Regions from separate parts of the Homo sapiens genome. Here region 2 is linked to region 1. Evidence: fine-mapped expression QTL. Tissue or cell type: whole blood. Region 1 holds a variant in brackets; the other region holds the start of a gene. All regions are shown on one strand. Distances are from middle to middle.

What was found. PIP is the estimated chance that this variant, and not a neighbour inherited with it, causes the effect.
Region 2: it holds the start of CEROX1, and the variant in region 1 is fine-mapped to the expression of CEROX1 in whole blood (TOPMed, PIP above 0.99).

What each region holds. Positions count from the first base shown.
Region 1 is chr16:1,006,924-1,014,923 of GRCh38, reverse strand. No RefSeq gene overlaps it. Among named protein-coding and RNA genes, the nearest start is that of SOX8, 29 kb to the right of the region's middle. RefSeq lists a silencer at 367-568 and an enhancer at 4,322-4,941. The variant A/G (reference allele first, on the strand shown) is at 4,238.
Region 2 is chr16:977,238-985,237 of GRCh38, reverse strand. CEROX1 (cytoplasmic endogenous regulator of oxidative phosphorylation 1) reads left to right here and starts at 3,625. Exons shown (of 3, transcript NR_164343.1): 1 at 3,625-5,637; 2 at 6,128-6,213. It overlaps SOX8 (SRY-box transcription factor 8), which reads right to left and starts at 3,468. Exons shown (of 3, transcript NM_014587.5): 1 at 2,894-3,468; 2 at 1,278-1,510; 3 at 1-537. The coding sequence starts at 3,315. It also overlaps a transcript of LMF1 not described here.

The DNA of each region.
Region 1 (8,000 bases):
GGTGGCATCTGGCCACGGAGAGTGGGCCAGGCCCAACACACGCAGCCCAGACCTCTGTCCCGGGGCAGCCTCCCAGGAGGAGCCACCTCCAGCCCTCGCCACGTCACCTCCGGCGTCAGGACTGGCCAGGCCACATCCTCTCCAGACCTGGCCGTCCTTCGCTGCAACCTCGGAGAAGCCACTCTCCTCCTCACCGGCAGCACCTGCCCTGGGGACCCCTTCGTCCCACTCACCTCCAGCCTGGCTGGGACAGGGAGACGACTCTGGGCCAGGGGAACTGGCCCTCCCGGCACAGGCCCTGCTCAGGGCTGGGAGGGAGGCATGGCTCTGTTCTCCCTTTGGTGAACAAGGAAGCCGGCCTCGGGCACTGAGTCCTCCAGCAGGGCAGGCTGGCCAGACAGATGGGCAGGTGGACCCATGGAGGCCACAGCCCCCACTGTAGGAGGCCCCCTCGGCCAGCATCAGAGAACAAGTCCACCCCACTCCACGGACTGGAAGACCGAGACTCACAGGGGCCCGGGGCCACCCCTCAGAAGCCCACACACAGAGCCCAGCCCCACAGACACAGCTCACCCACTCAGCTCACAGGACTGAGCCTAGGATGGGCAGAGGGGACCTGGAAACCCACCCCAGCCCCAGCCCCGCCAACACCTCCTACCTGGAGGCTGCAACGAGAACTGTCAGGGCAGGAGGGGGGCTGCAGGCGCTGGGGCCGTAAATCAGGGCTCCCAGCAACCCCCAGGCCTGGAGGAATTCCAGGCCCCTCCACCGTTTCCTCCCAGCCAGAAGGGGTGTCCTGGGCCCACAACTCGGCTCCCTCCCCGTAGTGGGTACAGAGTGGATCATGAGCTTTCCTGGGCGAGGTCCCCTAAACCAATTCTCTCTCCCCTCTCCTCTCAGCCATCCCAGCTACAGGGAGGACACCGAGGCCAGGAAGGGGGGCGCGTCCATTGCCCCCCAGCTGCATGACGCAGAGTTGGACCCACGTCCAGGGCATGCCTCCGGGTGCAGCTGCTCTAAGCCCAGAGCACTGTGGCCTCTGGAGCACCACCAGTCTCCACAGCCCACTGGCCTGCCCCTGGGTCACCCCAGGCCCCGCCCAGGCCCCCTGGCAGCCTCTGCCTGCCCAAGATCCGCCACCACCCTCCACAGCACCGTGGCCTCCGGAGCACGGTCCGATGCAGGTGGAGGAGGCGCTCCCAGCCCTGGCAGCTACAGCCCCTCCCCAGCCACCAGCCTGGGCCAGGAGCTCCTGTCAAGAGCTGGACACCTGTCCTGGGTTGGTCCTGCCTCACCCAGCGCCCAGCCAGCTCCTCCTCAATGCCACCAGCCCAGCCCAGGACAGAGCTGAGCAAGCAGATGCTCAGGACCAGCCGGAGGGGCCACTTAGGCGGGCAGAACGCAGGGGCCAAGGAGCACCACAGGAAGATCCCAGCCCCGCTGGCGATGGGCACCTGCGTGCAGGCAGAGGGCAGCACATGGAACAGCAACACAGGCCTGCAACAGGACGCAGTGAGGGGGCGCAGGGCTGCACAGTGGTACACGTGTGTGTCCTGTGTGTGCACATGTGTGTCCTGTGTGTGCATGGGTGTGTCCTCCATGTGCACGGGTGTGTCCTGGGTGTGCACTCGTGTGTCCTGGGTGTGCACGTGTGTGTCCTATGTGTGCACTCGTGTGTCCTGGGTGCACACACGTGTGTCCTGTGTGTGCACGTGTCCTGGGTGTGCGTGCATGTGTCCTGGGTGTGCACGCATGTGTCCTGGGTGTGCACACGTGTGTCCTGCGTGTGCGCATGTGTGTCCTGGGTGTGCATCTGACTGGGGGCACCTGTGGGTTTCATCCCCCACCCCAGCCTGCCCCCAGGTCACACCAGGCTCTCCAGGCCCCCAACAGCCTCTGCCCACCTGAGGCCAAGCAACCCCGCAGGTGTCCTGCCCTGCTTACTCCCAGACCAGCCCCACCTCTGCAACCACCCCCCGGGGTCTCAGCCAACAGGAGGTTCCAGTCCCACAAGTTTCAGGAACCACCTGCGGCCAGTATGGGGCTGAGGGTTGGACCCTCGGCCTCACCCTGTCAGGCGCCCCCGCCTGCTCTTTGACATGGGGAGGGCACACAGGTGGGGGCACAGCCCGGTGAGTCCTCCGGACCCTGGGCAGAGGGGCAGGATGCAGGGGCAGAATGCTGACCCCCATCAGCAGCCACCAGGATGGTGTCCTGAGCCTGAGGGTCCCAGGCTCTCATGGCCCTTCCCCGTGCTCCACAGCACTCCAGCCGCCTGCCTAGTCCATGTGGGTCCCAGAGGAGCTGCTGGGCTCTGGAATCATCTTGGGAAAGGCAGGCAGAGGCTGGCCGAGGGTGGGGTAATTCCTGCCTTCCTGGGAATGGGGACAGCCTCAGGGGAGCCCTGGAGATGGATTTTCCCCGATTTACCCAGCTCCCCAGCTCCTCCCAGCAAGATGCTGGGGTGTGGGCTGCTGTGAGACTCCCCATCCCGCGGACCCTGCCTGCCTGCCTTCAGGGTCCCCTGAGTGTTACTAAACAGAGGGGCAAAGCGTGGCCCCCAACGCCCTGAAAGGGAGCCCGCGCTGCGGCCCCAGTGCGGAATCAGGTGCTCAGATCGTTCTGCCGGAGCCTCCACGTCTCTTCCAATGTGCACAGGAAGGGACCCCGGCAGTGTCTCAAACCTGCCATGGGGAGTCTCCTTTCAAAGTAGACTCGAAGCTGAGGGTGACTTGGAAGAATATCGGGCGGACAGGACCACGGTGGCCCGAGGTCCTGCGGGCAGGCTGAGTGTTGGCCGGAGGTAATTCGGGCCTGAAGGTCTCTGTCCCTCCTGCACTGAGCTGTGTGCTGCCCTCTGGGTGGGGCAGCAAGGAAGAGGCGCCCCTGTCGCCCGGGTGCTCCTGCTCACACCAGGGAAAGGGGCAGAGACAGAGAGGGCCCCTCTGTGGTCTGACCCCACCGGAGGAGATGGTCTCCTGGACGCCAAGGCAGGCCACACACGACGTCTGCTTCCTCGGGGGTCTGTGGCCTTCCACCTGACCGCCAGGCACATTCCCGGTCACTCTGCTTTCTGCTCCCCCGTTTGTCTCTCTGCCCTGGGAGAGTCGGGGCAGCTGCAGCCCTTGTGGGACCAGAGCAGGGCTGAGGCACGGTGCGGAGACAGGCAGGGGACGCCTGCCATAGTGGAGTGAGGGTCGCCGAGGCCAGCTGCTGCAGGAAGGGAATGCCGGCTCTGAGTACCACCAATGGCACAGCTGAAAACTGCAGCGATGTCCTCTCCCGCAGCCTGGAGACAGGCCTAAAATCGAGGTGTGAGCAGAGCTGTGCTCCCTCCGGAAGCCCCAGGTGAGGGTCCTTCCCGCCTCTTCCAGCTTCTGGGCCCCTGGCCGCTCTGCCCTGCATCTCTGCCCTGCCGCTCTGCCCTGTGTCTCTGCCCTGCCGCTCTGCCCTACGTCTCTGCCCTGCCGCTTTGCCCTGCGTCTCTGCCCTGCCGCTTTGCCCTGCGTCTCTGCCCTGCCGCTTTGCCCTGCGTCTCTGCCCTGCCGCTTTGCCCTGCGTCTCTGCCCTGCCGCTTTGCCCTGCGTCTCTGCCCTGTGTCTCTGCCCTGCGTCTCTGCCCTGCGTCTCTGCCCTGGCCGCTCTACGCTGTGTCTCTGCCCTGCATCTCTGCCCTGGCCGCTCTGCGCTGCGTCTCTGTCCTACGTCTCTGCCCTGGCCGCTCTGCGCTGTGTCTCTGCCCTATGTCTCTGCCCTGCGTCTCTGCCCTGTGTCTCCTCTGTCTCCCTCCAGGGAGGCTTGCCCGGGCGGGGCTGCTCCTGCCTGCTGGACCAAGCCCCGCACCCACAGCCCTGAACTGCTCACTGCCGGCGCTCCTGGGACCACCCTGGAACCCAGCCTAGGACGCACTCAGCCAGCGTCTGTCTCTCCATGTGCCTGGAGACCAGCAAAGCCAAAAGCCTGTGGCAAGGCACTCACAGGACTGAGGCCGCCTGCCCCGCCTGCCACACGTCTCTCAGAGGTGGGGGTCTCATTTTGCCACAGACACCGAAGCCACAACAGTGCAGGGCAACCTGATCAGCCCTGTCCCGGGATGGGGCCACGGCCATGTGGACACACAGTGGGCGGCCCCCGAGTGGGAACAGCCTCAGCTTGGCCCGTTTGGTTGGAGCCACCCGGGGGCCACACGCTGCAGCCCCTCCTGCCCAGCGGCTGCCGCTGGGTTCCGTGTCACAGCC[A/G]CACACGTTTCCACACATTCTTCCGCTTGGGAATGGGCAGTACTTTGCACGATGGGGTCACCACCGTGTGGCCGCCTGGGCCCTCCACTTTCACGGGGCATGTCCTTCAGGGCCCCTCCGAGCCCGCCGCTGCCTCTGCCCGGCCTCCCACCAGCCACTTTTATGGGTTCACAATCACAGACGGGTCGCTGCGACGCCTGGCCCCTCCCCCAGCCATGGGGAGGACTTGCTGAACAGGGGGCCGGAAAGGGGCCCTGTCTCTCCCGGAGATGCCGTGAATGCAGCCTGGCTTCCCTGCGGCTGTGCCTGGGCAGCTGCCGGGTAAGGAAGCAGAAGCGGGCTGGGACCAGACACCAGGCTCCCCACCTGTGCAGCTGTGTCCCCCTCCCTGCCGCCCTTGCCACAGAGCAGCGCTTCCTGGTGGCCTTTTCCCCCCACCACGCCCCCCACACTCCCCTCAGGCCGGACCCCTCCATCCACAGTGGACACAGTAGCCTGGGAGCGTTGGATCCCCCACTCAGCTGAGAGGCACAGAGGCAGCCCAGGACCCTGCAGAGGTCCCCGCATAGCTTCTGCACTGCTCGGGGGGCCCTGCTCGGCCCCAGAGGCCCACTTGCAAGCATCATCAACGTGCAAGGCCGGCCCGGCCCCCGCCCCACACGAGGGGTACCTCCTCTTCTCCTAGGTCCCTGTGGGCCTTCGTCGCTGGCTGGGCTAGAAGGGCTCCCACGCCCAGCCCCTCCTGGTGTCCCTGGCTCCTCCAGACCTGTCTCCCCTCTCCCTCACACACTGAGTTTCAGGATCCCTGTGCCCCATGCCCCTTCCTGGGGACTCCGAGCGCCCCATCGCACCCCAGAGCCCCCACACTTGCTCCTCCGCCAGCACTGGGGCCGGGCTCCCCGCTACTTGCAGGCTGTGTGGTCGCCCGGCCTCCTGGAGGCACTTTGCCTCCCTTGGGAACAACCTGCTCCTCTCTTTTTCCACCCCAGAGCCTGGGGCTGCCTGGGATTGACAGGTGGGTGCAGATGGGAGCTCTCGGGCTCCTGCCCACCCAAATTCCTGGCACCGGGGCAGCTCCTGGGCCAACCAGCCCTGCCTCGCTGGCGTCTCCCTCTGCCAGCCCCACGCTGACACTTCGCCCTCCTCTCAGCAACGTGCTTCCTGCTAGCATCCTCTGAGCACCTGCTGCGTGCAGGGCCTGCCCTGGCTGCCTCCCCACTGCTCACAGACCCCGGTGTGCTGGCCCCTGCCCCATCCTCCAGGCCTGGAGTCTCCCTGACTCATTCCCCCGAATGCTCCCTTCCTTTATTTATTTATTTATTTATACCGATTCTCCTGCCTCAGCCTCCCGAGTAGCTGGGATTACAGGCGCCCACCACCACGCCTGGCTAATTTTTGTATTTTTAGTAGAGATGGGGTTTTACCATGTTGGCCAAGCAGGTCTCGAACTCCTGCCCTCAGGAGATCCACTTGCTTTGGCCTCCCAAAGTGCTGGGATTACAGGCGCCCACCACTACACCCGGCTAATTTTTGTACTTTTAGTAGACACAGGGTTTTGCCACGTTGGCCAGGCTGGTCTCAAACTCATGACCTAATATGATCCACCCGCCTCGGCCTCCCAGAGTGCTGGGATGACAAGCATGAGCCACTGCACCTGGCCCCTTCCTTTATTTAAATCACAGCCCAAAGCCACCTCTCAAAGCCCGATTCTGGCTTGCCATCCGGCCTGGTTCATGGACCCTCAGCCTCTCACCACCCCTGAGATCTCCACAGTCTCCTTGGCAGACGCCCACCTGAGGCAGCAGCCCTGACCACTTCTTTCCAGCTCTCTGTGTTCTCCAGCTCCCTGGGTGACCCCCTAAAACCAGATCACTCTCTCCAGTGTCTGGGGTCCCCATCTGTGACAGGTCTCTGGTGTGGATGAGTCTGGGGGCTCCCCCATCTCTCTGGACCTCAACTTCCTGAACTACAACTGGGCACTGTAGTGGGTTGAACAGTGTCCCCCAGGACTCACGTCCACAGAGCCTCAGGACGTGCCTTTATTTGGAAACAGCGTCATGGCAGGTGTAACTGGTTCCAGGATGGGGTCAGTGGGTCTTAGCCCGAGTGCCCGTATAAGGAGGAGAGGAGAGGCTCACAGGAGGACCCACGAACACGCAGGCAGAGCGATGTGGCCGCCAGCCAGGGAGCACGGGCAGCAGCAGGTGCTGGCAGAGGCCAGGAGGATCCTCCCTGTCTCAGGAGAAACCAGCCCTGCTGGCCGCTGGACTTTGGCCCTCTGGCCCCCAGAGCTGTGAGGGGTCCTCTGGCCTCCAGAGCTGTGAGGGGCTCTCTGTTGTCCTGAGCCTCCTAGTTGGTGGTGCTTCGTATGGCAGCTCCAGACACAAACGCAGGTGCCCTCATCATGGCCACCGCCCCGTGGGTCCTCGCTGGAGACTCTCAGAGGCCATCCCCTCCCACGGGCCCCAGGTCCCTGCCCTCTGTGCCCCGTCTGTGAAGCGGAAGGTTGGAAGACGAGGTCATTTCCAAAACTCGGCCCAGCTTGGAGACTGCCTGGTTGGCACCAACGTCCACCCCCATCCATCACCCCGCGAGGTCCTGGGGCCTCAGCCATCACGGTCCCCCTTGAAGGGGCTTCCTGGGTCCTCCAAGGATGTCCTGGCTTTCCACTGCCCAACCGGGAAGCCTGGGCCCGGGGACTTGGTGATGAGGAGAGGGGAATGAAGGGCTGGAGCTCCACCAGGGACAGAGATGGGGTGTACCAGGAAACGGGGCCAGGGGCCGTGGGGTCAGCCACAGGGGTTCAGACAGCAGGGATCCCTGCTAGAGTCTGGAGTCCCAGGTGGGAGCATCCCAGGAACCCCCACCCCTCCTGGGCCATGGGAAGGACGCTGCCTGCTGGGAGTGACAGCACTTGGCACCAAGCTGGCCAGGTTCCCCTCAAGGGCACGGCACAGCCGAGCAGGAGTGGGAGAAGGATGCGGGGCTGTAATAGGGAGGGATGGGGCACGGTCGGCTCCTGGCTTCTGGGCCAGAGAGTGTGACCCTTGGCTGGGTCCCAGTTACCTGGCAGGGCTGCTGCAGCTCCAGCCACGTCCGTCCTGCAGGGCGCCCACACCCTTTTCCCTGAGCTGGATGCCCCAGAGAGCTATTCCAGGCGCCTGGTGGAGACATGACCCGTCTGGCCAGACCGAGGCACAGCCACCACCCATGGCCTCGCCTGTGTGCCCTGGTGACTCACACCCACCGGAGCAGAGAGGCACCAGGATCCCCCTTGGCCATGCCTGGTGTTCGGGGAGGAGAGAACAGGAGCTGCCACCTGGGAAATGCCTCCTCCAGCCTCCCTGGGCCGCACCCCAGAGCCCTAAATAAATGCCTTTGCAGGTCTGCTCCCAAGAGGCACGAGGACTCCTGCCATGTTCCCTGAGACATGACTTAGCGGGCTGGCCACCATGGCCTGTCTTGCCACGATCCCAGGGCCCAGCCCTCTGTCCCCCAGCACCAAAGCCTGTCCCCATCTAGAAGAAGGCACTGGACTCGCTGTCCGCCACCCCTCCCGCCTTGCTCCCCTCCATCCTGCTCCGGGAAGGCTCCAGGCCCTCACATCCCACGGCCATGGAGCCTTGGGGAACCCGCTGCCCCGGTCTGGAACGTGGAGCAAGCTCAGGCGACGGTTTCCGCGGACAGGACAGACGGGGTGGCCGGATCCCCTGCACAGCTCCAAGTTTGGGTGACGGTTTCCGTGGACAGGGCGGACAGGGTG
Region 2 (8,000 bases), 30 kb after region 1:
AGCCAGGGTAGGCACCATAGTAGCTGGAGGCCTGCAGGTCGCCATAGTCGCCCTGTGAGCCGGCGAAGGGGCCGGCGGGGGCGGCCGGGGTGGCGCTGGACTGGCCGCTGCAGGAACCGTAGTCGGGCGAGCCTCGGGGCTGGTCGCCGTAGTGGCCGGGGCTCGGCTGCTCCGTCTTGATGTGCGGCCGTGGGGGACCCGTCTCGGTGGGCGACGCGGAGGCCGACGGGGCACTCTTGTGGGCCCACACGGGGGACGCCCCGGCGTGGAAGTAGGCGCCCCCATAGGCCTGGCCCGGCTCGGGTGGGGCGGGGCCGCCCAGGGGCAGGTACTGGTCGAACTCGTGGACGTCGAAGGCGTCCATGGTGCCCATGACCTCGCTGCTGAGCTCCGAGATGTCCACGTTGCTGAAGTCGATGTTCTGGCGCCCGCTGTCCACCGGCCGGCGTCCCTCCAGCTTCAGCTCCGGCTTGGCGCCCGCCTGCTGCAGCTCCGTCTTGGGGGTGGTGGGCGGGGTGGGCGGCCCGTGGGTCTGCCCTGGGGACAGGAGAGCAGGCTTCAGGGATGAATGCCCCTTCTGTGGGGCGGGTGGGGCCGGCCAGGCTGGAAGGGGAGGGACGCCCGCGCTAACTGCCAGGGGGATCAACGGCTTTTTGTTTCTTTACATTTCCCAGAAATTCCAGCAAAGTCAGACCTAGACCTCACTCCTCGGCCGAGAAAATTCCATGAAGCGCTGTGCTATGAGAAGACCCGAGGCCCCTCCCAGAGACCAAGGTGGGGGGAAGAAGCCGACAGGCCCAGCCTGGCCAGAGCTGGGGTTTACAGGGCGCTGGGGGACCACACAGACCCTGTTCCTCCCCGGGCCAGCCAAGCACTCTGAGGCTGGCGGGCGTCAGCCAGCCTGACCGAGGCCCCGGCAGGACTCCACCCTGTCAGTCTGGCCCTGAAGCTGGGGCTGCTGAGTGCCGTGTGGGCAGCAGCTCGGTGTGGGAAGAGGAGCCCGCATTGGACTGAGTCTTGCTGAAAACACCACCTCTCGGGGTCCCTGCCAAGCAAAGCTGTCAGCCCCTCAGCACTCAAGGTGGCTAAGCAGGTCCCTCGTGCACCAAAAACAGGGGCGGCCGGGGCCTTGGGAGCTTTTTCAGGGAACCCGGGGAAGGCCCGGTTCTCTCGAGGGCGCCTGCCCCCCTCCACCATCATGCACCCTTCTCAGCCAGAAACCCCACAGCTGCCTCCCATACAGGGACCCTCAGATATGCGGGGGGCCTGGAGCCCACCTGTGTGGTCGCCATGGTGGTGCCCATCTCCAAGCCCTGCTTCAGCCTTGTACACGGCACCGCCGCCAGGGTGGGGTCCCAGCTCCGCGCCCGAGTCGGAGTCGCTGTGGCCGGCTTTGGCGCTCTTCCTGCGCCGTGGCTGGTACTTGTAGTCGGGGTGGTCCTTCTTGTGCTGCACGCGAAGGCGCTCTGCCTCCTCCACGAAGGGCCGCTTCTCGCTCTCGCTCAGCAAGCTGCAGCACAGGGCAGAGGCAGGGATGGCCAGGGCGCCCACTGTGCCCTCGGCGCAGGCACACACCACAGGGGGAACCGGCAGCAGAGGCCGGGGCCAGGAGGCTCTGACCAGGGAAACCCGCCTGCCGTGCGCTCCGGAGCCTCCCGTGGCACCAGGCAGTACACTCCTCTGGGAGAACCGGCCGGCGCCTGTTTGGGAAGGTTGGTATGCTTACGACAGCCAAAGAAGAACAAGCCCCACGCCTCCCATCTTCCTCCTTCTATTTCCCCCTATTCCGGGCCTGCTGTTCCCTCCCTCTGGGGCTTTCTAAGGGAGGCGGGGGAGGCGGGCAGGACCCAGCCGGCGGTGGACAAAAGCGAGGCTTCCCGGGAACGGTGCCGGCCTTCGGCGGGCAGCTGGGCTGCTGTCCCTCCATTCCCAGACACCCAGAAGCCCTGGCAGGGCCCAGGCGCCCGTCCTCACTGAGCCACAGGACACACTCCTTGGGACTCTTCCCGAGGCTCACCTCCAACCGCCTGTGCGGCAGGACTTGGGGGAGCAGGGGCCTGCCGTCCACAGCGCCCCGTGGCTGCGCCCTAGATCCAGACAGAAGGCAGGAGGTGCAAATACGCAAGCTCCAAGCTCCCTTCTTCCAGGTGAGGAGCAGGATACGGGAACCAGAGCCCCAAACCAAGAGAACCATTTGAAACCCAACCAGAGGACACTCGGTGGGGGCGGCCTGTCCTGAGCAACAAGTTCTTCACTCTGCAGTCCTAATTTCTGGAAAACTGACCGGCCCCACCACGCCAAGGCGTGCACACGGCGCACCCCGTCATCTCCACTCCTGCCCTCCCTGCTTCGGACCGAGGGTGTCCAGGAGAGGGAGAAACTGCGGGGAGGGTACTCGCAGGCAAACCTGCTGCCCACCCATCCGCCTGCCGCACTCCCTCCCCATGGGTGGTCCAGGAGCTAGAGGAGCTGAGCCCTTTCTAAGGAGGGAGCACCTCCAGAGAGCCGCATGCAACTTGCTGTCGTGCCGGGCGTGCCTCCCGGGGCTGGGGCCACTCGCAACGGCTGGAGGGCACGTCGGGGTGCCAGCCATGGCCCTCCGCAGGGTGTTCCCCGCCAGGAGAACTGGCTCCAGAGCGCACCCGCCACGAGGGTGCACACCCCAGGCGCTGCCCTCCGCGGATCCCGACTCCCATAGCTGGCGCCGGACCCCGGCTGGCCAGAGGATGTTTTTCCACTGGGACCCGCCCTGACACCCGCCCGGGGTGCAGAGCCCGGAGCCTGCGTGTGGCCACCACCTCCGCGAGCTCTGCGCCCTCCAGGCCCCCGCTCGCAGTCCGAGACCAGGGGCGGCCAAGGTCCCGAACCCCGCCCCCGGGGCGCCGGCACTCACCGCCACAGCTTGCCCAGCGTCTTGCTGAGCTCGGCGTTGTGCAGGTGCGGGTACTGGTCGGCCAGCTTGCGGCGCGCCGCCTGCGCCCACACCATGAATGCGTTCATGGGCCGCTTCACATGCGGCTTGGCTTTGAGCGCGCCGCCGCCGCCGCCGCGCACCGGCATGGGCACCAGACTCCAGTCGTAGCCCTTGAGCACCTGCGACACGGCGTCGCGGATGCAGGCCGGGAAGCGCTCGTCCGCCGCCTCCGCCGGGTCGCCCCGGGCGCCCCCCACCGCGACCCCCGCGCGGCCCAGGCCCTCGGAGCCGGCGGGAGACGGCGGCGCGTCCGAGTCCGAGTCCTCCACGTGCGACATGGAGCTGGCGGTGCCGGACGGGCTGCAGGGCGGCTGGGAGCGGGCCTCGCTCATGTCCAGCATCGGGGCCGCGCGCGGAGGGGCGCGCACAGGAGACGCGCACCGGGGCCGGCGCCCGGGGCTGCCCTGCGGTCGCTCCGGGACCCGAGGTCGCCGCGCGGTGGCCCCGACCCTCGCCCCTGCCGCCGCCGCCGCCGCCGCCGAGGCTCGGGTCCCGCTGCGGGACCCGCAACAAGTTTCTTTAAGCGGCGGCCCCGCGGCCCCGCCCCGCGCCCGGCTACCCATTGGCGGAGCGCGCCCCGATCCCCCGGAGGCGGAGCCCGGCCGCCCCCGCCCCCCCACCCATAAAGAAAGCTCCGCGGCTCTCGCCGCGCCCCCGCCTGCCCCGCCCGGCGCCGCACCACGTGGGCCAGGCGCCCCACGCCTGGAGCTCCCCTCTCTGGAGCCCCGGGAAAGGAAGCGGGGCAGGGAGGCCGGGTGGGAGCAGGGGGGTCTCCGGCGCTTCCTCTCCTCTGCGGGCGCCGCGCGGCTCCTGAGAGTCCGCCCCCCGTCCTGACGCTCAGCTAGGAAGCGGGTCCTCGGGCCCCTCCCCCGACACACACACACACACACACACACACACACACACACACACACACTCTCTCTCTCTCTCTCTCTCTCTCTCTCTCTCTCTCTCTCTCTCACACACACACACACACACACAGCCCGTCTCGCGCCTGAGGTCTCGCCCGCAGGCCGGTGGCGCGGGGTCAGCTGCTGCCTGCGGTCCAGGACAGGGTCGGTTCCGCCGCGCAGCGCCCAGGCCCAGCTCGTCCAGAGTCTGCGGACAGCGCACGTCCAGGTAACGCGCTTCAAGGGGCCGCGGCTCGGAGCTGGGGGACCCCGGGCCGCCCTGCCCATACGAGTGCGAGCGTGGAGAGCGCGGGCGGGGGCGCGGTCCCGGGGGCCGGCCAGCTGGAGGGGGCGGGAGCGCTGGGCGGGGCCTGCGCTGACCCCGGCGCTGAGTCCCTGGGGCCGCCGGGCGGATGGCGTGGCCGGACGCGGGGGCCCCGGGCCTTCCGGGCGTGACCTAGGGCTCGGGGGCGGGGAGGCCCCTCCGGCGGGGCGGCCCTGGGTGGTCCGGCAGAGGCGGAGGCCGCTCCGAGCCTGTGAGCCCTGGGCGCCTGCGGAGGCGGGGAGAGGGCGGGGTGTGCCGCCCTGGTGGGGACCGCGGGGTCGGAGAGGGGACATTGCCCCCCCCGAGGCGAACGTCCAACCGCGGGTCCGGGTCCCCGCCCAAGGCCGCCCCGCGAGGTGGCCTCGGCCCGGCCGTCCCCGAGGGTGGCTCGGATCCTTTCAACCAGCGCGCTGGAGGCGAAGGGGCTGCGCCATTCCGGGTCAGGCAGCCAACGCGGGACACGCGCGTCTCCGAGCTTGCGGCCCGCGAAACCCGGGTGACCTACCGCGCCGGTGCCCTCAAAGCCCCCACGCCCGGGCCGGTGGCCGCTGCAGCCACTGAGCCACGCGGTCTCCCCGGCCCGGTCGGCAGAAGGAGCTGGTCCGTTACTAGAAAAGTCCAGATGCAAAGTCGGGGGTCGTGCTGCCGCTTCCTGCCAGCGCACCGCACCCACCTGGGGCCGCCACCGACCGCACAGGACGCGCCTCCTACCCCCTGTTCTGGCCCGGCCGAGAGCTGGTGCCCCCAGCGGCCGCCCGCCCCCGTCCGCAGACCCCGGGGCCCTTGCTGCTTTGCATTGGGAACAACCGGAGCCAGGCCCGGAGCTGAGGGGGCCAGGGCCTTTGGAGGAAGCATTGGCCTCCAGGCTGAAGAGCAAGGGCCGTGTCACCTGCCCGGAGGGCGGTCTCATCTCTGCAGCCAGGTCAGAGGAAGCAGCGGTGGGGAGACGGAGTGCGCGAGTTGGGAGGCTCCACGCATCGTAGGTGGAGAGCTGGCTGCCAGCCTGGCCTGCCCTCTCTTCCCCGTCCCACCATCTCGCTTGGCTCCGGCACCTGCCTGGGAAGACCCACACCTCCGTCTGCAGTGCCTCTTCCCCCTGGAGGCCCTGCCCTCCGCTCGGGGTCCCCGCATCCTTCCGTGGCCCTCAGAGCATCGCCTGGGGCGCCCGCGGAACTCATCTGTTAGGCCTGGGATGCAGGCAGGCAGAAGTGGGGGTTTAAGTGGAAGCAGTGAGGGTGGGGGTCCGGTCCAAACTGTGCCACCTTCCACCCCCTGCCCCTGGGAGAGCAGACATCGCCCACTCGGGCTCACAGTGCCATCCGGGTGAGGACCTCCGTGGAGAGCTCTCTTTGCCAAAGAAAAGCAGTTGCATTAGGTCTGCGAGCAGGCAGGGTGGCCTCTTCCTGGCTCCCCATCCACCAAGGAAGCTTCAAGTCCCTGGGACACAGGTGGGGAACTCCAGCACCCCTGGAGGAAGGGAGACTGAGGTTGGGGAGTGGCATCCAGGCCCTGACTCTGGGGCACGGTGGTCTGTGCAACTGAGACCCTGCCTCAGGCTCCAACAGCGCCTGCTCCTTTCCCCAGGTTGCAGTGATCACCAGGGGAGGTGCTGGGCGTGCAGGCTGCCACAGGAGGGGTGGGGAGGTGGGGAGTCTCTGTGGCGGGGTGGTGGGGGCCTAGGCCAGTCAGCTGAGGACGTGTTGGTGCACTCCCGGGAGGGCGGTATGTGGGTGAGGATCCCCATGCAGAGTGGTGCCCACAAACCCCCCTTCCAGAGTCATCTCTGGTCCACCTTGAAGTCCCCAGGAAAATGACCTCGTCCTCCGCGGGTGTGAGCCACTAGGCCTGAGAGGACGCCGGGACGGAGCTTTCAGAGAGGGAGGTGTCGGGATGGCTTGAGGGTCACCAGGTATTAATTAAGCACTTGCTGTGTGCCAGGCACTTTCCCACACAGGATGGAGCCGGGCCACCCTCACAGCTCCTGCCCTGCAGACGCTGGCCTTGTGGAGGGAGGCAGGCAGCAGGTAACTCCAAAAGCACCTCTCAGAGGCGGGGACTTCAGGAAGGATGGTCTGGGAAAGCATCTTTGGTGTCATTTAAGCTGAGCCCTGAAGCTTCTGATCTCCTGCAGGGAGAGGCCAGCGTGTTCCCTGGGGAAGCTAGAGCAGAGTGTCTGATGACAAGAGATGGACCCGGGGGTGGAGAGTGGAGGGGCAGCCATCAGAGCCACCTCTGAGTCCACCTGATGGGCCCATGTCTTCATCCAGGGGGGAGCTGCACACACACCCTCCTCCCCTGTCTCCCATCCCTGCCCCACCCCTTCAGCTGGGGCCTGCTCCGCCGTGTCTGCATGGCCCCACCCACCCTGACCTCACCACCTGCTAGTGGGCCTTGCAGTTTCAGGGGGAGTGTACGTTTCAAGTATACCCTGATGGGGGAATCTGGACCAGGGCTGTCCCCTGGGCCGTGAGTGCCGGGCGTGGAGAGCTGGTGTAGATGACATTTGTAGCTCCACATGCCCTGGCCTGGGCGCCAAGGACAGCCGCAGAGAAGAATGTGGGTGGACAGGCTCTGCTGCCCATGAGATGGTGCAGGGATGGCCTGGGGGATGCTTCCAGATGAGAGACCACCCCACCCTACCCGTGGCTCCTAGGGATGGCGACCCCGGAGGCGCGTGTGTTCATGTGTGTGTGTGGTGTGTGTTTGTATGGTATGTAATGTGTGATATGTGTATGGGATGTATGTATGGGGTGTGTTTATGGTGTGTGTGGTGCGTGTATAGTGTGTATGGTGCGTGTATAGTGCGTATGGTGTGTATGGTGTGTGGTGTGTATGTGTATGATGTGTGTGATGTATGTGTGTGGGGTGCGTGTATGGTGTGTGGTGTGTGTGTGTGTGTATGATGTATGTGTGTGGTGTGGTGTGTGTATGGTGTGTGGTGTGTGTGTGTCCGTGTGTGTTTGGTGTGGTGTATGTGTGCAGGGTGTGGGTGTGTTTGTGTGTGTGTGATGTGTGGTGTGCGTGTGTATGATGTGTGTGTGTGGTGTGTGTGTGTGCGTGTATGTGTGTGGTGGGGTGTGTGTATGGTGTGTGGTGTGTGTGCGTGTGTATGATGTATGTGTGTGGTATGTGTGTGGTGTGTGTGTTTAGTGTGTGGTGTATGTGTGCAGGGTGTGGGTGTGTTTGTGATGTGTGGTGTGCATGTGTATGGTGTGTGTGTGTGTGTGGTGTGTGTTGGGCCCAGGGCACGAGGAGGAAGCAGGGCTGCCCAGGGAAATGCCACCCTGGAGAGGCCCCTGTCCCTCCCTCTCCGTCCTTCCCTGTGCCCCTCCGTCCCTCCCTGCCCGTCCTCCCCGTCCCCCTCCATCCACCCCCAACCCGGCCCTCCTCCTGCGGCAGGCAGCCCATCTTTTGTGCGGCCTCTGAGAAGCACAGGGAGGGCCCGGCGGGCGTGAACCCGCTGGCAGCCGGTGTGTGCACAGCCTTGGCCCGGGCCTCCCAGCCCCTGCATCCCGAGCACCCGTGGGGCAGTTGGCAGCGTCCTGGCACGGCCTGGGAGATTAATTGGTGCTTTTAATGACGGCTGGTCTGGCAGAGACAGAGTGACTACAGGCTGGGCCGGCGCAGGCTGTGAGCAGAGGCTGGGAAAGGCCCCGCCCCCGGACGGGTCTCCAGGGGAGAGGAGGGGTTCGCAGGACCCCTCTCAAGACCCCCTTCGGGAGTCAGCTTCTTGGCCACGCACACTTGGAGCTCTGGGCTGGGTTGCAGCTCCCTGTACTTCACTGTCTCGGGTGCTGGCAGTGCCAGCTGG